Regions from separate parts of the Homo sapiens genome. Here region 1 is linked to region 2. Evidence: fine-mapped expression QTL. A gene starts in region 2. The other region holds a variant in brackets. All regions are shown on one strand. Distances are from middle to middle.

Region 1 (12,133 bases), 25 kb before region 2:
AGCTGAGATATGGGGAGCCTACACTCCGGAGGGCTGTACCTTTAGCACTGGCCCTCATCTCTGTTTCAAATCCACGACTCAACATCCTGGATACCCTAAGCAAATTCTCTCATGATGCTGATCCAGAAGTTTCCTATAACTCCATTTTTGCCATGGGCATGGTGGGCAGTGGTGAGTATCCGGCAGAAGAAGGTCATAAACAGATTGGGGGAAGATTTGAAGCCCCTTTTTTCACTTCTGTAATGCTTAACATTTCCAGGTACCAATAATGCCCGTCTGGCTGCAATGCTGCGCCAGTTAGCTCAATATCATGCCAAGGACCCAAACAACCTCTTCATGGTGCGCTTGGCACAGGTAAAGAATAGAACTCCTCCACAGAGCGTGCCGGGGAAGTATCTGTGGTGATGGAAGGAGGAACATGGAGTGTTGGCCCAGGAGGAAAGATGTGACCAAGTGGGAGATTTCTGTTTGGCTGGGTTAGGCGATGTCTCCTCAGTGGTAACTCCTCACCTCTACTTCCCTCTGTTTTTTTCAGGGCCTGACACATTTAGGGAAGGGCACCCTTACCCTCTGCCCCTACCACAGCGACCGGCAGCTTATGAGCCAGGTGGCCGTGGCTGGACTGCTCACTGTGCTTGTCTCTTTCCTGGATGTTCGAAACAGTGAGTTCCTGTCAGAAATTTTATATCATAGCATGCAGGGCTCTGACTCCACCCTTTCCAGGGCCACTTTGATAATTTAGGTTCAAGACCCCAGTTTAGCTCTGTATCGCTCTAGGTTTCTGAGACAGGCTTTGGGCCTGTGACATGAGACTTTCATCACCCACACTTTTGATCTGGCCCAAAGAGATTTGAGGGTGATGTGCCCAGCGTCTGCTCCTAAGTCACTGGGGAAATGCGATTTTCAAGTCTAAGGGCTGTAAGCAAAGTGAGGTGGGGGCGTCTCTGGTTCGTAGTAGGGTGTATGAGGGGAGGAGTGTGGATTCAGTCGTATGACTGACGGGTTAAAGGGTCAGCGCTGAGGTGGGCTCTCAATGTTTCTGGCCAGGCCTGTCTTTTTGTCTCTTAACTTTTTGTCCTGTCTGCTTCCCTCAGTTATTCTAGGCAAATCACACTATGTATTGTATGGGCTGGTGGCTGCCATGCAGCCCCGAATGCTGGTTACGTTTGATGAGGAGCTGCGGCCATTGCCAGTGTCTGTCCGTGTGGGCCAGGTGAGAGGCTGAGTAGAGGGGAGGGCTCAGGCTGTATTCTCAAACTGGAGAATGTACATATACTTGCTTTGCTGAAACTGGCGTGGGCGGTGGCTTGTCGCTACTTTTCCATCTCTCTTTTCAATTTTCTTACCCTACAGGCAGTGGATGTGGTGGGCCAGGCTGGCAAGCCGAAGACTATCACAGGGTTCCAGACGCATACAACCCCAGTGTTGTTGGCCCACGGGGAACGGGCAGAATTGGCCACTGAGGAGTTTCTTCCTGTTACCCCCATTCTGGAAGGTTTTGTTATCCTTCGGAAGAACCCCAATTATGATCTCTAAGTGACCACCAGGGGCTCTGAACTGCAGCTGATGTTATCAGCAGGCCATGCATCCTGCTGCCAAGGGTGGACACGGCTGCAGACTTCTGGGGGAATTGTCGCCTCCTGCTCTTTTGTTACTGAGTGAGATAAGGTTGTTCAATAAAGACTTTTATCCCCAAGGTCTCTCTGTGTCTGTTTTCTGGGGTGTCATGGCTGGAGTCTAAACTAGAGTAAGGAGTGGAAGTGAGAGGGCATTGTTAGGAGCAACGCTGAGTTTAGGTTAGCAGCACTGCCCTGGATGGAAAGAACTGAGCCCCTTCCCTCCCCTGGGTGGAAAAAACTAAGCCCCTCCTTTCTAATCATCTTCTCTTTGCATTTTCTTAGAACCCTTGAGAAGCCAATAAATGTAATGGATCTTCTTTTTGTTTTGTTTTGTTTTGTTTGAGACAGAGTCTTGCTGTCTCCCCCAGGCTGGAGTGCAGTGAGGCAGTCTCGGCTCACTGCAACGCCTGCCTTCCGGGTTCACGCCATTCTCCTGCCTCAGCCTCCCAAGTAGCTGGGACTACAGGTGCCTGCCACCACGCCCGGCTAATTTTTGTTTTTTGTTTTTGTTTTTTTGAGATGGAGTCTCGCTGTGTCATCCAGGCTGGAGTGCAGTGGTGCGATCTTGGCTCACTGCAAGCTCCACCTCCCGGGTTCACGCCATTCTCCTACCTCAGCCTCCCGAGTAGCTGGGATTACAGGCACCTGCCACCACGCCTGGCTAATTTTTCATATTTTTAGTAGAGACGGGGTTTCACCATGTTAGCCAGGATGGTCTCGATCTCCTGACCTTGTGATCCGCCTGCCTCAACCTCCCAAAGTGCTGGGATTATAGGCGTGAGCCACCGCACCCGGCAAATTTTTGTATTTTTAATAGACGGGGTTTCACCATGTTGGCCAGGATGGTCTCGAACTCCTGACCTCAGATGATCCACCTGCCTCGGCCTCCCAAAGTGCTGGGATTACAGGTGTGAGCCACCGTGCCCAGCCAATGGATATTCTTCCTAGGAGACGCAAATACACAAATTTTTACACAAACTCTTCCAAATAACTTCAGGGGGCTTGTGGATCCTGTAAATAACCCCCCACACTCACCCTCCACCACCAATACACCCTCTTCAAGCCTATCATCTTCTGACCTTGGGCTAAGGATGCCCAAGAGTGGGCAGCCTCATACTTTTCTAACTTGACTTACGTGCTACTGAATGAAAAGGACATCTTTACCTCCCGCAACCATCTGTCCCTCTTGGGAGGCTGCTATGAGGAATTTGATCATGTTAACATCTACTTCTAGGATGTCCTTGTAGAAAGTGGATTCAAGAAGGCTTGACCCTCAGCCTCCCAAGCAGGTAAGGTAGGGCTACAGGTGTGTACCACCACTTCTGGCTTTTTTTTTTTTTTTTTGAAATGGTCTCACTCTTATCACTCAGTCTGGAGTGCAGTGGCACAGTCATAGCTCACTGTAGCCTCAAACTCCTGGACTCAAGTGATCCTCCTGACTCAGCCTCCCAAGTAGTAACTAGGACTATAGGCATGACCCACCACAGCTGGCCTACTTTTATTTTTGTGGAGGTGGGGGTTTTGCTGTGTTGCCCACGCTGGTCTCAATCTCTTGGCCTCAAGGGATCCTTCCACCTCAGCTCCCAAAGTGCTGGGATCACAGGCATGAGCCAGTATGCCTGGCTATTTATTTATTTATTTATTTTGAGACAGAGTCGTGCTCTGTTGCCCAGGCTGGAGTGCAGTGGCGTGATCTCGGCTCACTCTGCGTCTGGGGTTCAAGAGACTGTCTGCCTCAGCCTCCTGAGTAGCTGGGACTACAGGCATGCGCCACCATGCTCTGCTAATTTTTGTATTTTTAGTAGAGACGGGGTTTCACCATGTTGGCCAGGATGGTCTCGATCTGACCTTGTGATCCACCTGCCTCGGCCTCCCAAAGTGCTGGGATTACAGGTGTAAGCCACCACACCTGGCCCAGTTATTTTATTACTAAATTTTTTTAGAGACAAAGTCTCACTTTGTGGCCCAGGCTGGAGTGCAGTGGCATGATCATGGCTCACTGCAGCCTTGAACTTCTAGGCTTAAGTGATTCTCCCACATCAGCCTCTCAGGTAGCTGGGATTACAGGCATGAGACATCAGCAATTTTGGATTGAGTCATCTTGGCAGCCTGTATAAAAAGGTTGAAACAGGATTAAGGAATCCCTGTTGAGCCCCTTTATGGTTCCTGCCATAATCTTCAAGTTAGCATGTGTGATGTGATGAGCCTCTGTTATTATATAATGTGGATATAGTAGTTGCCTTACCTGATTTCCAGTGGTGGTGATGTTAGAATAAAAAGTGATTTGTAAACTAAAAAGAATGATTCTCTCCCAAATTGTGATTTAGGTGATTGTGCTTTAGAATAAGACAGTTTCATAGTGGCTTTTAACCTTTCACCTTTAGTTCTTCATTCATCAGTGAATAGCAGTGGAGCCTTACTCTGCATCAGACATTCGTCTAATTTATGGGGATGCAAATACAGAAAAAAACCCCTATGCTCAAAAAGTTTAATGAAATGATGAAAACAACTGTGATCGATACTTACCAGGGTGTGAACAAGGTACCCTGGTATCACTGAGATGGGGCCTAAGTGCCTGGGGCAATCGGGGGACTTTGAGGAAGCTTATATCCTTAGAGGAAGATAAGTTTGTACAGAGGAAAAGAGGGCAGAATATAGCTAAGGGAGTAGCAAAGGCAAGAAGGAGGAAAAGCTGTTTTCAGAAACTTACAGATAATTTGGTTTGGCTAAATGTATAGGGGCCAGGGAAAAGGGTGGTAGGAGATACAGCTGGAAATTCAGGCTCAGACTAGGTTTACAAGAGCTTTGTTGTGCTAAGAATTTGACAGTATCTTTCAATGGGGCCCACTGAATGAGAGCAGAAAAGTGACATGATCAGCTATCTGGGTGAGAAAGCTAACCCTGGAGGACAGGAGAGCAGGCAAGGAAAATGAATGCTTGAACTAAGGCAGTTGAAATGGGGACATAGGGAAGGGTAGAATAGTTATTTTTTAAAAGATAAGATCAATAGGACTTGATTTTGATCCAAATACCAGTAAGACCTGGTGTCTGATTAGATGTAGTGTGTGGATGGAGAAGGAATATAGGATGAATCCCAGATTTTCAGGTTAGGCACTATCTATTACGTAAGCAACAATATATTTGGGGGACTTGATTGAGTAGGGAAAGTTAACAAATTCTGGCCAGGTAATAAGTATCAGAGTTTGGATGAAAACTCAAGCAATCTGACCTGTGGATTTGGCTGTAGATGATGGTCCCTTCTGGCCTCTGTCAGCTTTTTCTTTTTTTTTTTGAGACGGAGTTTCGCTCATGTTGCCCAGGCTGGAGTGCAATGGCAGGATCTCAGCTCACCGCAAGCTCCACCTCCCGGGTTCAAGCAATTCTCCTGCCTCAGCCTCCTGAGTAGCTGCGATTATAGGCATGCGCAACCATGCCTGGCTAATTTTTGTATATTTTTAGTAGAGACGGGGTTTCTCTATGTTGGTCAGGCTGGTCTCAAACTCCCGATCTCAGGTGATCCGCCTGCCTCAGCCTCCCAAAATACTGGGATTACAGGCGTGAGCCACCGCCCCCGACCGGCTGTCAGTTTTAAGATTACTTCTCTTCTGTCCTTATTCTTCCATCCTTACGCTTTTGCCCCTCCGTGGGAGTGTCTGCTCTTTTTATATTTTATTTCATTTATTTATTTATTTATTTGAAACAGAGTCTCACTCTGTTGCCCAGGCTGGAATGCAGTTGTGATCTCAGGTCACTGCAGCCTCCAACTCCCAGGTTCAAGCGATTCTCCTGCCTTAGCCTCTCCACTAGCTGGGACTACAGGTGCTTGCCACCACATCTGGCTGATTTTTCTATTTATAGTAGAGATGAGGTTTCACCATGTTGGCCAGGGTGCTCTCGAACTCCTGACTTCAGGTGATCTGCCTGCCTTGGCCTCCCAAAGTGCTGGAATTACAGGCGTGAGCCACCGTGCCTGCCTTTATTTTTTATTTTTATTTTTATTTTTTGAGACAGAGTCTCACTGTCATCCAGGCTAGAGTGCAGTGGCGCAATCTTGGCTCACTGCAAGCTCTGCCTCCCGGGTTCAAGCAGTTTTCTGCCTCTGCCTCCTGAGTGGCTGGGACTACAGGCGCACGCCACCAGACCCGTCTAATTTTTTGTATTTTAGTAGAGATGGGGGTTTCACCATGTTGGCCAGGATGGTGACCCCGTGATCCGCCCTGACCCCGTGATCCGCCCGCCTCGGCCTTCCAAAGTGCTGGGATTACAGGCGTGAACCACCGCGCCCGGCCCATGATCCTTTTAAACGACAAATCTCATACTACTTGCCTAGTTAGAATGTTTCTAACTTTTTAAACGACAAATCTCATACTACTTGCCTAGTTAGAATGTTTCTATCCTTTTAATTTCCTTTGTTATAGGCCTTTCAAGGACCTAATCTAAATTCTTTTCAAAGCCTGCATAATTCGTGTTGTATCACGATTTACTTAGGCAGGACTGAGTCTTTAATTTCTTTTTTTCTTTCTTTTTTTTTTTTTTTGAGATGGAGTCTCACCCTGTCGCCAGGCTAGAGTGCAGTGGCGTAATTTCGGCTCACTGCAACCTCCGCCTCCCGGGTTCAAGCAATTCTCTGCCTCTGCCTACCGAGTAGCTAGGACTACAGGCGTGCGCCACCAGGCCCAGCTAATTTTTTGTATTTTAGTAGAGACGGGGTTTCACCATGTTGGCCAGGATGGTCTAGATCTCCTGACCCCGTGATCCGCCCGCCTCGGCCTCCCAAAGTGCTGGGATTACAGGCGTGAGCCACTGCGCCCGGCCCATGATCTTTTTAAACTACAAATCTCATACTACTTGCCTAATTAGAATGTTTCTATCCTTTTAATTTCCTTTGTTATTGGCCTTTCAATGACCTAATCTAAATTATTTTCAAAGCCTGCATAATTCGTATTGTATCACGATTTACTTAGGCAGGACGGAGTCTTTAATTTCTTTCTTTTTTTTTTTTGAGATGGAGTCTCGCCCTGTCGCCAGGCTAGGCTAGAGTGCAGTGGCACAATCTCCGCTCACTGCAACCTCTGCCTCCCGGGCTCAAACAATTCTCCTGCCTCAGCCTCCCAAGTAGCTGGGACTACGGGTGCGCCACCACGCCCGGCTAATTTTTGTATTTTTAGTAAAGACGGGGTTTCACCATGTTGGCCAGGATGGTCTCGATCTCTTGACCTCGTGATCCGCCCACCTCGGCCTCCCAAAGTACTGGGATTAAGGTGTGAGCCACCGCGCCCCGCTTATTTTTTTTTTTTTTTTGCCGAGACTTTGATTTCAGTTTCTCAGCCCTCAACCAGCACTTCGCCTTGTACTTAGCATGCACTCAATAAATGGTTGCTTAAAATATGAATGAACTAAAGAATCGCGGAACAGAGAGAAACACAGAGGGGAATCGGTCTGGGAGTTTCAAAGTTCGGGAGGGGACACGGGGGCGGGCTGTGGCTGTCACGTGACGGGGCGGGGGCAAATCCCATGTGCTCGGCGGCGCAGATCGCCCGGCGCGGCTCCGCCCCCTGCGCCGGTCACGTGGGGGCGCCGGCTGCGCCTGCGGAGAAGCGGTGGCCGCCGAGCGGGATCTGTGCGG[G/A]GAGCCGGAAATGGTTGTGGACTACGTCTGTGCGGCTGCGTGGGGCTCGGCCGCGCGGACTGAAGGAGACTGAAGGTAAAGCCGCCATGTCCGGGCCCGACCCGGCCCCCCCACCCCCTCCCCCCGCATCCGCCGCCATCCGGGCCGGGACCGGCCACCCTGCGCCGCCGCCCCGGCGCCCTGGCCCCGCGGCCCGACCCAGGGCCCCGGCCCGCCAGGGTCCCGATCCCCGGCCCACGTGTGCCTGGCCCGGCCGGGCCTGGCTGCTGGGTGGGGGTGGGGAGCGCAGGGCCGGACTATGCGGGCCCCGCGGGCTGGTAGGGCGCCGGGTTCGTCGCCGCGAAATGCCACCTCGGCCTGACCCGAGGAGGCCCGGCAGCCCACGGGCGCAGGCACCACGGCTCCCGGCCCGCCGCCCCCTCCCCCCTTCGCGGCCAGGCCGCCGGGAAGTGACACGTTGTTCTTTGGCACTGGCCCGCGCTGCGCAGGGAGGGCGCAGGGGAGGGAGGCGGTGGCGGCGGGCAGGGAGGAGCCCCCGGCCCCGCCCGCCCTCCGGGCCGACCCTCACTTGCCTGAAACCGGCTCCTCGACGGCCGCCGCCCGCCTGGCCTTTTAGGGCCTGACTCCCGCCCTTCCTGGCCTACACTCCTGGGCGGCGGCAGGCCTAGCTTCTGGCCCAGTGCGGGTTCCCCGGCGGCAGGCGTATCCTGTGTGCCCCTGGGCCAGGCCCGAACCCGGTGTCCCCGGGTGGGGGGTGGGGACGCCACGGCCGAAGCAGCTAGCTCCGTTCGTGATCCGGGAGCCTGGTGCCAGCGAGACCTGGAATTTCCGGTCTGGTTGGTCTGGGGCCCCGCGGAGCCAGGTTGATACCCTCACCTCCCAACCCCAGGCCCTCGGATGCCCAGAACCTGTAGGCCGCACCGTGGACTTGTTCTTAATCGAGGGGGTGAGTGAGGGGTCTGTTTCAGTAGGTCAGGGGTTGGTTGGAAGTGATGCGGGTTTGACAGCATGTTGGTGGGGACAGGCTGTATCTTTTCTGCTTCACCCTCTTGGCATCTCTGGGACTCCGTATGGGACCCAGCCCTTGCATCAACCCTTTCACCGCCCCATTTGCCTTAAGCTTGGGTCCCTTCCTCTTCCTGAGCGCCACTCTTTCCCAACAGGTGCTGGGGGGACCCTGATGTGGCACCAAATGAAATGAACAAAGCTCCACAGTCCACAGGCCCCCCACCCGCCCCATCCCCCGGACTCCCACAGGTAATTAGGGAGGAATTAGCAGGGGTGGGGGTGGGGGAGACCAGGCAGTCTCCAGCCTCTGGATCTTCCTACCCCCATCTGTGTCAGGGCAAAGTGCAGCCGCCTGCTGCCAAATTGAGACAGGGCCCCTGGGCTGTCCCCGGGGGCTGTCACGGGGAGGGGGTATGTGGATTGTTAAGGCTCTTGCCGCAGATCTGCTCCCCTTATTTCACCAGCTTGGGTTTCTGCCCCACCTGGGCTTCCCCTCTTGCTGAACTCTGGTCTCCCCTCTTCAGCCAGCGTTTCCCCCGGGGCAGACAGCGCCGGTGGTGTTCAGTACGCCACAAGCGACACAAATGAACACGCCTTCTCAGCCCCGCCAGGTGAGGGGCTGTGGGGAGGGGAGTAGGGGACCTGGGTGGGAGCAGTGGAAAGCTTTGGCCAGTTTAGGTCTAGGATGGAAACTGGAGGCCCCATACCTGGCCTTAATCCTCTGTGTTCTTTCATGCGGCTCTGCGCCTTGCCCTGTTGATTACTCACGGTGGCTGGTCCCTTGGATAGTATGTTGTCAATGAGGGTGGCATTACTGGGATCCTAGTGCCTCTGAGAATTGGGGGCAGTGCTTTGGGCCCTGCTGCCAGCTCTTGCTTTCCTATTTGCTCCTTTTACCGGAGGCTGCTATTGCTCTATTGCTCTCTCTGCTTTCTCTTTGGACTGTGGTGAGGTAAACACTCCAGCTGGTCCTTGCCTTTCTCTGTTCCCCAGCTTCTTCCTTACTAAGTGGGAGGATTCTTGTCCTGTCTTATTGCCTTCATTCCCTCCCCCCGCCATCACCTTGGGGGTAATTCTCTTCTTTCCTATCCCCATGTGCTCTCAGGGAGGATTCAGGTCTCTGCAGGTAATATCCCTTTCCCAACCCTGGACAGTCTTCTGGTCTCATCCTTACCCTCCACCCTAGTCAGGGGCTAGACACAGGGAATGGGGATCTTCAGGGTAGTGACTTGTTTGGTGTCCAGGTTCTCAGTTGGAGGCCGAGTGATGCATGTTAGGGGCTACATCTTGAAGAACGCGCATCTGGGGACTGGGATGCTGTTGCATGTTATGGTTAGCTCCTCATTACATGCTGGTGGAGCAGTGCATGCTGGGGATATGTTGCCCGAAAGGGCCTTACTTAGGCATGATGCATCTCGGTGTTAGGAAGCCTCTGCAGAGGGGTAGTTTGGTAGAGGTGACGTGTGTATGCATGGCAGTGAGAGAGTAAATCTCTGCAGGATGCAAAGTGTACATCTGAATTTGGAGGTTTGGAGGGCATGTGTGTGTACAAGAAGCCGCTTAGCCATTTGGTCAAGTGGTCTTGGAAGGATTGGTCGCCATGTTCTGAAGCCCACAGTACTTCTTTCCAGGCTATAGAGACATTGTGGAGTGGCAATTTTTTGTCCACTTCCTTCTCTTTACAATGCCAACTGCTTTCCTCCCTCCTGACAGCACTTCTACCCTAGCCGGGCCCAGCCCCCGAGCAGTGCAGCCTCCCGAGTGCAGAGTGCAGCCCCTGCCCGCCCTGGCCCAGCTGCCCATGTCTACCCTGCTGGATCCCAAGTAATGATGATCCCTTCCCAGATCTCCTACCCAGCCTCCCAGGGGGCCTACTACATCCCTGGACAGGTGAGGCTGGGGGCTTGGAGCCTAGAAGCCACAGACCCCTATACCTCTCACTTAACTCACCCTGACCCTCCAGTTCCATTGCTTTTCCAGAGGTGGGACTTCCTTCTGGTCATTGCCCAGAGTTGGCTTGTCTTGTCTTGACCTATGTTCTTTTTGGAGTCTGATATGGAACTCATAGCTCCCTCAACTCCTTCTCTCCCTCTCCCCCTTCCCCACCAGGGGCGTTCCACATACGTTGTCCCGACACAGCAGTACCCTGTGCAGCCAGGAGCCCCAGGCTTCTATCCAGGTGCAAGCCCTACAGAATTTGGGACCTACGGTAAGCAGGGGAGGGAGTCAGAGGTGAGAACAAGCCCAAGGGAGCATCTAAACTCATCTGCTGATTTCTAAAGCAGAAGACCCTTCCCAGGCTTGGCTTCTGGTCTAAAAATGATAAGGTTAATAGGTGGTAGGGATTGGTGCTTAATATTTAACTGGTGTTGATTGTGGGGAGAAAATTTGATTTTATTGCCAGGAGAGTTAAGAGTCTTTCCCACATCAGGGAATGTAGGATCAGGCACCAGCCTGAGAGCCTATTAGTAGGCTTTCCCTGTGACACTTCTTCCATGGTTGGGAGCCCATGTAATGCAAATTTGGGAGGTTTTTGTAGCTATTTTTTATTTATGTTCTAGGGAAGGATTAGTCTGTTCTTTATGGCAGTGGCTTCCAAGTTTTTTGATCACCTATCAGGAAAAGTTTTGAGTATGAATCTCTCATACATGTATGTTTTTGTTTATATGTATGCAAAATTTAAACAAATACACTTGTGCTTGTCAAAAACAAGTGGAATTTAGGGATGAAATTAAAGAATGTGCCCGGATCTTGCTTGTAATCCCAGCACTTTGGGAGTCAGGAGGACTGCTTAAGGCCAGGAGTTTGAGACCAGCCTGGGAAACTTAGTGAGACCCTGTCTCTATTTTAAAATTTGAGGGGGGCTGAGCACGGTGGCTCACGCCTGTAGTCCCAGCACTTTGGGAGGCCAAGACAGGCGGATCACTTGAGGTCAGGTGTTCGAGACCAGCCTGGCCAACATAGTGAAGCTCCGTCTCTACTAAATTTTATTGTTATTATTTTAATTTTCTTTTTGAGACGGAGTCTCGCTCTGTCACCCAGGCTGGAATGTAGTCGCACAGTCTTGGCTCTCTGCAGCCTCCGCCTCTTGGGTTCAAGTGATTCTCCTGCCTCAGCCTCCCGAGTAGCTGGGATTACAGGCGTGTGCCACCACACCCAGCTAATTTTTGTGTTTTTAGTAGAGATGGTGTTTCATCATGTTGACCAGGCTGGTCTCGAACTCCTGGCCTCAAGTGATCCACCTGCCTCAGCCTCCCAAAGTGCTGAGATTATAGGCGTGAGCCACCACGCCTGGCCCTGTCTCAACTAAAAATACAAAAATTAGGCCTGGTGATGCACTCTTGTAATCCCAGCTATTCGGGAGGCTGAGGCAGGAGGATCGCTTGAACCCGGGATGTGGAGATTGCAGTGAACCAAGATTGTGCCACTGTATTCCAGCCTGGGCAATAGAGTGAGACTCCATCTCAAAAAAAAAAAAAAATTAAGGGGAAAAAAGAACTCACCCACTTTGGAGATAGTTTGCTTTAAGGAATTAATTTTTCTTCATCTTGAGCCTAGTTCATAATGTTACTTTGTTTCTTTGCCCCTTTGTAAAGGGCTGGAGACAGGAACTAGACTCAAGTTAAATGGAACAGGGTTGGCAGATCTCTTTCTCTCATTACCAGCCAAAGACCTGGTTCTGTTTCAGGTTCAGAGTATGTGTGTACATGTTGATAGCGGGTGGGGTACACACACGAGAGTAACTTGTACGGTGGAAGGACAGACATAAGTCCTCCTGGTCACTGGTGTGTGGTAGGAAAGAGTGCCTGCCTACGAGGGGTGTGTGTGTGTGTGTGTGTGTGTGTGTGTGTGTGTGTGTTTGTGTGTGTGTGTGTGTTAG
Region 2 (12,449 bases):
AGTTAGTACTGGCGTGAGCAATGAGCCTGGGAAGACGGGTGCTCTCGGAGGGAGGACACCTGGTCTGAGGGGTAATGAGTGGTAATTCACTCCACAACAACTGGGAAGGGGAGGGGGAGAATGTTTGAAGCGAAGGCACTATGTGTGTTCTTTCTACCTATGGTAGGAAGAACTTGACACAGGGAAAAGAACTATTAAAGAAAGGCCAGTGTGGGAGAGCACAGCAACCAGTCCTAAGTGAGGCAAGATGGGGCCGAAGAGAGGGATGTGGGCCTGACCACACAGGGCCGGGTGTAAGCCATGGCCAGAGTCTGGGGCTTTAGCCTGGGGGCAAGAAAACGCCTTTGTGGGATTTTAAGCAAGGAATAAAGGAATTTGATTTTAGTTTTTAGATCATCTTGGCAATAGAGGGAAGAGTGGTTTGGAATGGGGTGAGAGTGGATGTGGCAGTGTTAGCACCAGTGGCTCAGCCTTGCTGGTGATGGTGGAGAGGAGTAGGCAGATCAAGAGATACTTAGGAAATGGAGTTGGCAGCTTTTGGTTACACTGGTCTGGGGAGGGGGCCGTGAGAGATTAGAAGTCATGGATGACTCCCAGGATGGTTTTTAAATCACAGTGGGCTTAGAGGCCATAGTGTGATGTCATTTGCTGGGGTAGGCAACGGTGGATCAAGTTGAGTTGTGGTCCTTGAGTAAGGGAATCGAGATGTCAGCTCAATAGCTGGGGTATCTGGGTCCTTTTGGAAAAGAAGAGATCAGGGCAGGAGGCAGCTTTGTGAAATGCCGGCACAGGGTAACTCATGTGCAAGTCATAAGAGGATACGGGCTTGCCTGAGGGAGAGTGATAAGGGCCTGAGATACAGCCCCAAGGAGGTAGAGCGGACATACTGGTAGGGACCAAAGGAGGACAGGCCCCTCTGAACCAAGGACAGAGAAATTTGAGGAGAGGGATGTGGTTGATAATGCCAGATGCTGCTGTGAGCGTTTGTAGGAGTGGGCCTGAAAATGCAGGATGTTTGGAATATAAAAACATAGAGGCCACCCTGGCAAAAACAGTATTTAGTGGGGCAGGGGACAGATTCTGGATTGGAAAGGACTGAGAAATACTTAAGTGAGACAGAAAGAAGGGAAAACATCAAGTGTAGACAAAATATTTTATTAGCTGTAAGATAGTGGTTGAAAACAGGGCTTTTTGTTTTTAGGTTAGAGAAACTTGGGCTTGAAAATACAGGGCAGAGTGCATAATCGATTGGATGGGGTCCCTGGGTGGGTATGTGTGGGATTTGGAGTGTAGGTACGGGTTAAGTGAAGGTTCTGCCCTGCTATGGCCCATTGCTATGGGGTGGGGGTAGCAGGTGACTGTGCCCCTAGGCAGTTTGTGACTTTGAGGCTGGGCATGCCCTGCAGAACATCCTGGCTGGCAGCATCTCATAGATGGCTTAGAAGTGTAAGGTTTGGTTTGGAAAGACTGGTGGTGCCTTGTGGGCACTGGGGTCGGTTGTGTTTCAGGGGTTATAGGACACGTTGCTTGGGAAGGCTACCCAGCAGCTAGGGGTTGAGGAGAAAGAGGGCCCGAACAGGTGATGCTTGAGTTGAGTCCTGAAGGAACAAGACACGAGGAAGTTTCCGGCAAAGGATATAGCATCCACAAAAGTGTCAAGGCCAGAGAAGGTGTGTATGTACAGGAAATGTGTGGGGAAGGAAGGGAAATTGAGATCAGGAGTTGTCAGGATCTGTTTGGGGGGCAGTGAATGTTCAGGTTACATGTAGGATATATATAGGACTTTATGTATGATATATATAGGACTTTTAGCGATTTCCTGAATTCAGGAGTACCAATTCTGAATATAGTTTTCTCCATTAAATACATCATGGGCAGAGAGGTTTCAGGCTGCCAAGGTGAGGCCAAGCAAGTTTGTAAGGTTTTTCTGATGGCCAAGTGACTCATTGCTGTGCAGCAGTCTCAGATCATGAGATTAGCATCCTGTCAGAGGCCTAGTCACTCTGGAATGGCCACAAATGTCAGGCTGGTGCATCAGGGCCTTGTTTGAACAGTGGAACTTGGGAGGGTTCCCTGGGGTGGGCTGGGGTGGCGGTGGCCAGTCACCTCTAACTGCTGTCCCGCCTGCTTGCAGACCTGCTGCGGATGTTCTTTGACGCACTGTATGACGAGGACGTGGTGAAGGAGGATGCCTTCTACAGTTGGGAGAGTAGCAAGGACCCCGCTGAGCAGCAGGGCAAGGGTGTGGCCCTTAAATCTGTCACAGCCTTCTTCAAGTGGCTCCGTGAAGCAGAGGAGGAGTCTGACCACAACTGAGGGCTGGTGGGGCCGGGGACCTGGAGCCCCATGGACACACAGATGGCCCGGCTAGCCGCCTGGACTGCAGGGGGGCGGCAGCAGCGGCGGTGGCAGTGGGTGCCTGTAGTGTGATGTGTCTGAACTAATAAAGTGGCTGAAGAGGCAGGATGGCTTGGGGCTGCCTGGGCCCCCCTCCAGGATGCCGCCAGGTGTCCCTCTCCTCCCCCTGGGGCACAGAGATATATTATATATAAAGTCTTGAAATTTGGTGTGTCTTGGGGTGGGGAGGGGCACCAACGCCTGCCCCTGGGGTCCTTTTTTTTATTTTCTGAAAATCACTCTCGGGACTGCCGTCCTCGCTGCTGGGGGCATATGCCCCAGCCCCTGTACCACCCCTGCTGTTGCCTGGGCAGGGGGAAGGGGGGGCACGGTGCCTGTAATTATTAAACATGAATTCAATTAAGCTCACTGCCTTTCTGCTTTATGCCCTGCTCCCTCTAGAGAAGGTGTTTATAGGTGGGGATCCTTCCCAGAGCTGGTACTGTAGCGCTGTTCCCTGTAACCTGGCACCCCTCCTGCCTCTTCCCCTGTCCATGATTGCAGGGATCTGAGGTTTCCTGGAAGGTTGGGCCCTCAGATGGGCTTGATAGGTGCCTTCCTGGTCCGGAGAAAAGGGAGATTAGTGATAGGACATCCTTGCTAGGCTCTGCTCTCCTACCAGAATGATTCAAGCCCCTGTGTGGGGAAGGCTTTTGGGTTTCGGGTTGTTTATAGCTGGAGAATCCCTTTATGGCTTGAAGGTGTCATCTGTAAAATGAAGGGGCTGGATGCATGAAGGGAGGTTTTGCGACCCCGTGTAGTGTGACTGGGCTGGCTTAGTGAGTGTTCGCCGCCCCTGCCTTCAGGTGGCAGTCGGCTCTGGGAGGAGAGGACCGGCATTTTCGAACCCGGTCCAGGCCGCCTCTGCGTGGCTGTGACGTCGCTGCGCCCCGCCTACTTTGGGTGGTGACGCGGCGGTCACGCCCCCGCGCTTACGTCACCGGCCCGGTTCCCTCTCCGGGGAGCGGCGGCGGACGCGCGGCTCCCACCCCTCCCCTCTCACGGGCTCTCCCCTCCCCAGTGTGGCCGCGACCCTACCCTCTGCAAGGCGATGGCCCGCGCCCCGAGCGCAGGCTAGCGTGCCTGGGTGCCCGGCCATGGGCTGTATCGGCTCTCGGAGCCCGGCGGGTCAGGGTAAGAGGCGGAGGCCGGGTACGGGTTGGGGAGTCGGGCTGCGGCCGCCGGTGCGCGGGCCGCGGGTGGGTGGGGGCCTTGAGGAGGGGGCCGGTGTCGGGAGAGGGAGGAGCCTGCACCGGGAGGCGGGCCAGGCAACAGGAGGGAGCGGGAATGAGCAGGGAAGGGGCCAGACCGACTCCGGTTCGCTCCCACGGCCTGCCTGCCTTGGGGTTTTGCAGGGCAGACGCATGGTCTCGCCGCTGGCTGCCGTGTGCCCACTGCTCAGGGTGGCCGGAGACGCACAGCCCCGGGAGGGGCTGGGCAGCCCGATGCCCCCACCACTCCAGCCCTCGGCGACTGGCCTTGCGCGCCCACACACACACTCCCCTCCGCCTACACCTCTGCCTTCACAGTCCTGGGAGTGGCCCTGTGCTGGGAACCTGCTTCTCCCAGCCGTGTCCCCATCTTCTTAAAGAGGTAGCCTTTCGGTCCTGGCTAAGCACCCTACCACAGAATTTTTGTCGGACATTGACTCCCCTCTTCAGTCAGTCGGCGAAGGGGGACTGAGGTCCCGTTTGGGGCACCTGTGAACACTGAATCACCTCTCACCTATTACAGTTGTTTTAATGTCCTGCCCCCACTCAGCAAAAACAAATCACTCTACTCTGTGGAGGGAAAGAGGAACCCAGAGGCAGGCCATCAGGGCTTCCTTCCCACAGTGCTGACCCCTGCCTGGGCCTCGGTTTCCGTGGGTGGCCATGCACACCGGGCCTGGCCGTAGTCCTGTGCATCAGAGGTCGGCCAGCTTCCTTTACTCCGGTGTGGTGGATTTCTCCACGCATAAGGCAAGGCAGGACTGGGTTTGGGATGGGTCCTGGACCTTCAGGGCAGGTGGTCAGTCACACAGGCCTTGGTGTGGTTGGTACTTGATGTTCTTTGGAGCTAAGACTGGCTGAGATTTGTACTTCCCTTGAGGAATTCTGGGATTTGTAGTCCTAAGTTAACCTCGTGGCTTTTGAAGCTGAGGAGCAGCTGACTGCTCTGATCTCTCTGGCCCTATCAAGGCTTGGAGTTCAGGAAGTCATCACCTTCTCTTGTCAGGGGTGAGTTTGGCTGACCTCAGGACTGGCCTCGAGAGCCCTGGTTAGGTACCAGTTGGGGGCCAGGGATGGCCTGTAACCTCCTGTTTTCCTTCTGGTTGGTAGCATTTCTGGGGACCAACAGCTGGCCGAGGCTCAGGGATAGAGACGGCTGCTCCAGCTAAAGGTCAGTTGTGATGTACATTGCCTGTTGGCACTGTCTAGGGAATGGGCCTCAGCTCCCCGAGTCCCAGAGAGCTTGGCTGAGCCCTGGTGTTCCCACCTCCTCAGAGCCATGAGGCAGGAATGTTCTCCTTATGTGACTAGGCACAGGTTCCAAATGGGGAGGGGACTGGCTCAGCATCCGGAGCCAAAACAGGAATAGAACTGGGAGCTGAGCCTGGAGCGGTTCTGGGCTTTTGGTTCTCTGCATCAACACAGCCAGCATGCCTATGATTTCTGTGCTGGGCAAAATGTTTCTGTGGCAGCGTGAAGGGCCTGGAGGACGATGGACTTGTCAGACAAGTCGCAGAGGTGAGACCAGGGATCATGGATGTGATCTGGGAGATGATGGGAAGCTGAGCAGTAGGGTGCTTAGGTGGAAAAGGAAAATTACTCTGGCTTAGATATTAAGAACCAGGCTGAAACAGGGAGAACCAGGCTGGGGCCAGACAGGGCATCAGGAAACGGCTTCAGGGGACAGGGGTGAAAATCAGAAAAAATATCATGAGTTCGTCAGAAAAGAAGAGTAAAGAGCTGTGGACCAGCTGAGGCTGGCGAGAGGAAAGAAGGCAGCAGGAAGAGAGAAGGAAGGCAACCCTCCTGCAAAGGGTCCAGGGTGGCGGTGGTGGGGGGGACAGTGATGGCGGAAGAACTCAGTGTGCTTTCCAAGAGGAATGGGTAGGCTGGGAAACGGGAAGGAGAGTCAGAATTTATCATTGTTTGGTTTCACCCTAGGGTTTTGAGGCAAAATTTATCCAGAGCAGGAAGGTGGCAAGTGGGCTGCCACAGAATGGCCCCAGGGGCCCGAGGGTCAGTGATGTGTGGGATGGGGGCTTTTAGAGTTGAGGAGAGCACTCAGTGGGCGCTGGTCTTCTGGAAGGTGGGGGAGGGGCCGAGAAATGATACGGCAATACTGGATGAAAATGGGGATCTCTGCAGAAGTAGGGGCACAGCTCAACAGCCTTTCCCCTTCCTCTCAGTGTCCTCGGACCCCGCTTGGGCTGTGGAGTGGATCGAACTTCCTCGGGGTCTCTCTCTATCCTCTTTGGGATCTGCTCGAACCCTCCGAGGCTGGAGCAGGTCCTCCCGCCCTTCCTCGGTGGACAGTCAGGACTTGCCAGAGGTGCTGGGCCCCTGGTGGTGGGGGGAAGGAGGACGTCATCCATATAAAGGGGATCTGCAGCCCCCACCCACGCCTGGCCAGCCAGCTTCTGGCTCCCTTTTCCGGCGGGCGGAGGCGCTATCCGGCGGCGGGCCGGGAGGCCGCCCCCGTGCCGGTCTGCTCTGCTCGGCGCTGTGCCAGCAGGCGGAGAGCTCGCGCCTTCCGCGCTGACGTCAGCGCATCCCGGGCCGTATCCCGGGAGACCCTGTTGCGTGGTGATGGGTTGCCAGGGAGACATACACCTTTTCTCTGGGCCTGGGCCGCAGCTGCGCGGAGCGCCGGGCACGGATGGCGGCGGCTGAGGGGAGCGAAGCGAGGGAGGGAGAGCAAGCTAAGAAACACCCAGCAGGTGCTCCCCCGCCTAGGCCTGGCTGGAGGCTACTGGCGCCACCCTGGGGGCCCTGTCAGCCAGGTACCCAAGGGGAGGGATCGAGGGTGGGCCTCAGGTCAAGGGGCAGTGTTGGCTGCCCTTGTGAGGGACGGGAACGTGATAGAAGAGAGCTGGGCAATGCCGGGGAGGGATGTGTGCCTCCAACTTCATTAAGTGAGGGAAACATTTGCTGGGGCTTGTCAGGGAGCCCTGAGCCAGGTACAGGGTGGAGTTAGGAACTTACGTGCATCAGACTTAGGCCTTGCCATCCTGAGCTCCCTCGGGAGACAGACAAGGGCAATGATGGGGGCGGGGTGTGTCAGAGAAAAGAAGAGGCTGTCGGCTGAAAGCATTATTTGCAGGTGACACTTGAGATGGGCCTTAAGTGATGGCAAGCATTTTTTCACGTAAGGATGGCATTCTTGGCCCAGAGGAAAGCTGAGTTCCTTTTCCTGGAGGCAGGCGGGCTGCTTGCTGACAGGGATTGGTGGAGAAGGGTTTTTGTTTTTTGTTATTTATTTTTATGTATTTATTTATTTGAGACGGAGTTTCGCTCTTGTTGCCCAGGCTGGAATGCAATGGTGCGATCTCGGCTCACCGCAGCCTCTGCCTCTGGGGTTCAAGCGATTATCCTGCCTCAGCCTCCAGAGTAGCTGGGATTACAGGCATGCGCTGCCACGCCCGGCTGATTTTGTATTTTTAGTAGAGGCGGGGTTTCACCATGTTGGCCAGGCTGGTCTCCAACTCCCGACCTCAGGTGATCCGCCTGCTTCGGCCTCCCAAAATGCTGGGATTACAGGCGTGAGCCACTGCGCCCGGCCTGAGAAGGGGGGTTTTATTGGGCAGAGGAGATCAGCAGTGGATTCAAAGGAGGCTTGGAAGGAGGCAAGGGTGTCACAGAGTGGGATCCTTCAGGGCCTGGGTATGATGCCTGCACTAACCTCACTGGACAGTAGCGTAGGCTAGACAAGATTTTAGAGATGTGTTGTGACCAGCTGCACTCCAGGAAAACTGTTTACATTATATCTTACCTCATTCATCCAGCCTTTGCATTTTTGTTTGCTTGTTTTTGAGACAGAGTCTTTTTCTGTCGCCCAGGCTGGAGTGCAGTGGCACAATCTTGGCTCACTGCAATCTCCGCCTCCTGGGTTCAAGCAATTCTCCTGCCTCAGCCTCCTGAGTAGCTGGGATAACAGGCACCCGCCACCATGCCCTGCCCATTTTTTAAATTATTTTTAGTGGAGATGGGGTTTCACCATGTTGGCCTGGCTGGTCTCAAACTCCTGACCTCAGATGATCTACCCACCTTGGCCCCTTGGCCTCCCAAAGTGCTGGAATTACAGGCGTGAGCCACCACGCCTGGCCCAGCCTATGCATTTTTTTTTTTTTTTTTTTTTTTTGAGATGGAGTCTTGCACCGTAGCCTAAGCTGGAGTGCAGTGGTGCGATCTCGGCTCACCGCAACCTCCGCCTCCCGGGTCCTGGTTCAAGCAATTTTCTTGCCTCAGCCTCCTGAGTAGCTGGGATTACAGGAACGTGCCACCATGCCCAGCTAATTTTTGTATTTTTAGTAGAGACGGGGTTTCACCATGTTGGCCAGGCTGGTCTTGAACTCGTGACCTCATGATCCGCTCACCTCGGCCTCCCAAAGTGCTGGGATTACAGGCATGAGCCACTGACGCCTGGCCAGCCTATGCATTTTTAAGAAATTATTCTGTATTAGGTGCTGTGCTAAACATTGGGCACTACAGTGACCAAAACAGACTGAATTCCCCAAGAGCCAAAGACCAGTGAGGGAGACCAACAAGAAACAGGAAATGCAAAAGAGACCATTATTACTCACTATGACTAAGGGCCACAAATGGGGTACGTTGATGGAGAGTGATTTGTTAAGAGACTACAGAGGGAGGACAGACTACCAAGAGGGGGGCCAGGAAAGCTCCTCTGACGAGGTGGTATTTCAGCCCAAACTGGAAGAATGAGAAAGAGCTAGCCAGCCATCAGAATAGTCCAGAAGAGATGGGGAGCACTACACTCACTACACTTTGGCCTGAGAAAATAGCATGGGATTGGAGGAGGCTGGGGGAACACCACTTCTGCCGACCTGGGCAGGAGGCATTGAGGGCTTGAGAAAGGGCAATGGCAGTAGCAGTAGAAAGGACAGGGTAGGAGCAGGGACTTTGCAGGTGGAATCATTAGGTCTTATCAACAGATATGGGCAAGCAAAGCCAGGGGAGAATTGATGGTAATGCTGAGGTTTGGAGCCAGGCTAGATGGGACAGTGGTGGGTGATGCAAAGGAAAGAGGTCAGGAAGCAGGGCCAGACGTGGGGAGAAGGTGTGGGGGTTTGGTTTCCATCTTGCCGAGTCTGCCGGAATGTGGATGGGAAGACCAAGAGGAGGAGCAAGGGGCAGAGGGGAAGGGAATCTTAAAGAAGTCCTGGATGCCACACTCTTCTTCCTTCCTCCTCTTCCCTCTCCTCAGAGGTCTCACTCGTGGTTCTTCATTTCCTGCCCTGCCTCCATCTCCTCTGGGTGCTGGGAAAGTGGAGGATTAGCTGAAGTTTTGCTTCTCGGGGCCTGTCTGAATCTCCATTGCTTTCTGGGAGGACATAATTCACCTGTCCTAGCTTCTTATCATCTTACATTTCCCTGTAGCCACTGGGACATATGTGGTGTTCCTTCCTAGCTCCTGTCTCCTCCTCATGCCTTTGCTGGGTATGGGCATGTTAGGGGGAAGGTCATTGCTGTCAGAGGGGCACTGACTTTCTAATGGTGTTACCCAAGGTGAATGTTGGAGACACAGTCGCGATGCTGCCCAAGTCCCGGCGAGCCCTAACTATCCAGGAGATCGCTGCGCTGGCCAGGTCCTCCCTGCATGGTATGCAGCCCCTCCCATGTTTCTGGCCACTTTGTCCTTTCTCCTCCCGTTTGCACATCCCTTTGGAACTGTTTCCTGTGAGTACATGCTGGGGTCTCCCCTTTCTTCCCTTGCTCAGGTGAATCTCAGCCCCTTCTCCCACCCAAAGGTTCACATGGATCCTAACTACTGCCACCCTTCCACCTCCCTGCACCTGTGCTCCCTGGCCTGGTCCTTTACCAGGCTTCTCCACCCTCCCCTATCTCCAGGTATTTCCCAGGTGGTGAAGGACCACGTGACCAAGCCTACCGCCATGGCCCAGGGCCGAGTGGCTCACCTCATTGAGTGGAAGGGCTGGAGCAAGCCGAGTGACTCACCTGCTGCCCTGGAATCAGCCTTTTCCTCCTATTCAGACCTCAGCGAGGGCGAACAAGAGGCTCGCTTTGCAGCAGGTGGATGGCAGAAAGGGGATAAGCTACACTCTTGGCACAGGGCTGCTTTCTTTCTTTATTTTATTTAATTTTTTTTTGAGACGGAGTCTCACTCTGTCGCCCAGGCTGGAGTGCAGTGATGCAATCTCAGCTCACTGCAACCTCTGCCACCCCAGTTCAAGCGATTCTCCTGCCTCAGCCTCCCAAGTAGCTGGGATTACAGTTGCCTGCCACCGTGCCTGGCTAATTTTTGTAGTTTTAGTAGAGATGGGGTTTCACCGTCTAGGCCAGGCTGGTCTTGAACTCCTGACCTAGTGATCCACCTGCCTCGGCCTCCCAAAGTGCTGGGATTACAGGCATAAGCCACCACACCCGGCCAGGGCTGCTTTCTTATCTCCTCGGGTCTGACATGGGGGTTGGAGTCTTCCCATACCCTGTTTCTCCTCTCTCCTGTCTTCAAGCTGAGCCCTAGACTTAGCTCACCTTCTCTGCTTATGCATTCTGTCCCTGCGACAGGAGTGGCTGAGCAGTTTGCCATCGCGGAAGCCAAGCTCCGAGCATGGTCTTCGGTGGATGGCGAGGACTCCACTGATGACTCCTATGATGAGGACTTTGCTGGGGGAATGGACACAGGTGAGGGACATCCTGGGCTAGGGCTGTGGTGGACCCACCTGATAGACCTTGGCATTCTTTCAGAGCCACATCCAGAACACTCTCAGCCTTTGCAAGGGGAGGGAGAGGGACAGACTCAGTCCAGGCAGGCCTGGACACTCCAGGGACAGGAAGGCTGTCCACACTCATGGGTGGGAAATGAGCAGACAGAAATGGATTCGTTCCTTTCCCACAGGTGCTGAGGCTTCTCTGCCTGTCTGCACAGTTGTGCCTTGCAGTCCTCAAAAAAAAAAAAAAAAAAAAAGCCGAAAGACCTCAAGGACACCTTCTGTGCAGCCATGTCTCTGGGAGGGTCTGCAGTGCCTTTGCCTCTTCCTCTCCGAGGCAGCCTTCTGGCTGGCTGTGGCAGGGCAGATGAGCTGCAGTGCACAGCCCAGCACCTCGCAGGGCTGCAGCCCAGGTCAACAGGAAGGCATGCTGGGCCTGGAACACCCACGGGGCCATGCTGGCTCCAACTCAGCATCCTTGCATTCCAGCCCGTGGGCCTTTCTCTGGGCCAGTGCTTGCAGAGGGGACCCTGCAGGGCTCTGCAGCTGTGTTCGGCCCTCCTTTCATCTTTCATTCCCTAGACCACATGGCTGACTTTCTCTGTAGCTTCTGGGCTCAAGTCTCACAGGCCACCATTCCCCACAACCTCTTTGCCTTTGAAGATTACCTCTACCATCCCATACCCCTCCAGTGAATTAACAAGTTCTCCAAAGCAGGCAATACATGAGAGCAGGTTGGAGACTGCTGCTGTGGTCTGGAGGGCTGATTTGGTTGTCTGAAGCCAAGATGGAACCTTAAACCACAAGCATTTTTGTTTGATTGAGTTCCAGGCCTACTTTGACCCCTGGGGTAATGATAATAACTAACATTTATCCAAGGCTGCTACTAGCCTGTGTGGAATCTTTGTGCAAATTAGAAAAAGGCACCCCTTTCTCTGGCAGGCACAGCCTTTCTCTGGCAGGCCAGGGCATGCTGCTTGGTGAGCAGAGTATGGGTTAGATTTTGCTATTTCTCACTGCCTTGGACAGGCCCTGTTGTGCGATGAGCAACCTGTATGGCCATAGGCGGTGACCCTGCATTTACTGCTTGTTAACTGTGTGCCAGACTTTTTTTTTGAGACGGAGTTTCACTCTTGTTGCCCAAGCTGGAGTGCAATGGCACGATCTCGGCTCACTGCAACCTCCGCCTCCCAGGTTCAAGTGATTCTCCTGCCTCAGCCTCCCGAGTAGCTGGGATTATAGGGATGTGCCACCACGCCCGGCTAATTTTGTGTTTTTAGTAGAGACAGGGTTTCTCCATGTTGGTCAGGCTGGTCTCGAACTCCTGACCTCAGGTGATCCACCTGCCTCGGCCTCCCAAAGTGCTGGGATTACAGGCGTGAGCCACCGCACCCACCTGTGTGCGAGACTCTTGTTCTTGTATTGTTAGAATCTCCAACTCACCATTAAGGACACTGAGGTCTCAAAAAGTTGTGACTGGTTCAAGGTTACCCAGCACCTATCCACCCCTAGAGCTATGCCAGGGGTGGAGTGGGGTGAATGTGGCTTCCAGGTTGTCCAGTTGAAATGGAGCCAGCAGGACTGTCTTCTTTTCTCTTCTCCTCACAGACATGGCTGGGCAGCTGCCCCTGGGGCCGCACCTCCAGGACCTGTTCACCGGCCACCGGTTCTCCCGGCCTGTGCGCCAGGGCTCCGTGGAGCCTGAGAGCGACTGCTCACAGACCGTGTCCCCAGACACCCTGTGCTCTAGTCTGTGCAGCCTGGAGGATGGGTTGTTGGGCTCCCCGGCCCGGCTGGCCTCCCAGCTGCTGGGCGATGAGCTGCTTCTCGCCAAACTGCCCCCCAGCCGGGAAAGTGCCTTCCGCAGCCTGGGCCCACTGGAGGCCCAGGACTCACTCTACAACTCGCCCCTCACAGAGTCCTGCCTTTCCCCCGCGGAGGAGGAGCCAGCCCCCTGCAAGGACTGCCAGCCACTCTGCCCACCACTAACGGGCAGCTGGGAACGGCAGCGGCAAGCCTCTGACCTGGCCTCTTCTGGGGTGGTGTCCTTAGATGAGGATGAGGCAGAGCCAGAGGAACAGTGACCCACATCATGCCTGGCAGTGGCATGCATCCCCCGGCTGCTGCCAGGGGCAGAGCCTCTGTGCCCAAGTGT

The links.
Region 1: its variant is fine-mapped to the expression of FAM131A in whole blood (TOPMed, PIP 0.99).

Annotation. Positions count from the first base shown.
Region 1 is chr3:184,307,355-184,319,487 of GRCh38, forward strand. EIF4G1 (eukaryotic translation initiation factor 4 gamma 1) reads left to right here and starts at 7,252. Exons shown (of 33, transcript NM_198241.3): 1 at 7,252-7,320; 2 at 8,135-8,191; 3 at 8,409-8,502; 4 at 8,778-8,864; 5 at 9,967-10,143; 6 at 10,363-10,462. The coding sequence starts at 8,443. It overlaps PSMD2 (proteasome 26S subunit ubiquitin receptor, non-ATPase 2), which reads left to right. Exons shown (of 21, transcript NM_002808.5): 17 at 3-171; 18 at 260-354; 19 at 536-662; 20 at 1,095-1,213; 21 at 1,354-1,696. The coding sequence ends at 1,536. RefSeq lists enhancers at 6,675-7,175, 7,900-8,521 and silencers at 7,003-7,332, 7,353-8,062. The variant G/A (reference allele first, on the strand shown) is at 7,246.
Region 2 is chr3:184,332,593-184,345,041 of GRCh38, forward strand. FAM131A (family with sequence similarity 131 member A) reads left to right here and starts at 5,008. Exons shown (of 6, transcript NM_144635.5): 1 at 5,008-5,126; 2 at 5,795-5,937; 3 at 9,132-9,225; 4 at 9,474-9,656; 5 at 10,152-10,268; 6 at 11,903-12,449. The coding sequence starts at 5,039. The coding sequence ends at 12,378. It overlaps EIF4G1 (eukaryotic translation initiation factor 4 gamma 1), which reads left to right. Exons shown (of 33, transcript NM_198241.3): 33 at 2,135-2,761. The coding sequence ends at 2,316. RefSeq lists enhancers at 2,092-2,241, 5,550-6,161, 8,253-8,332, 11,504-12,256, 12,257-12,449 and silencers at 3,212-3,641, 3,558-3,758, 3,682-3,751.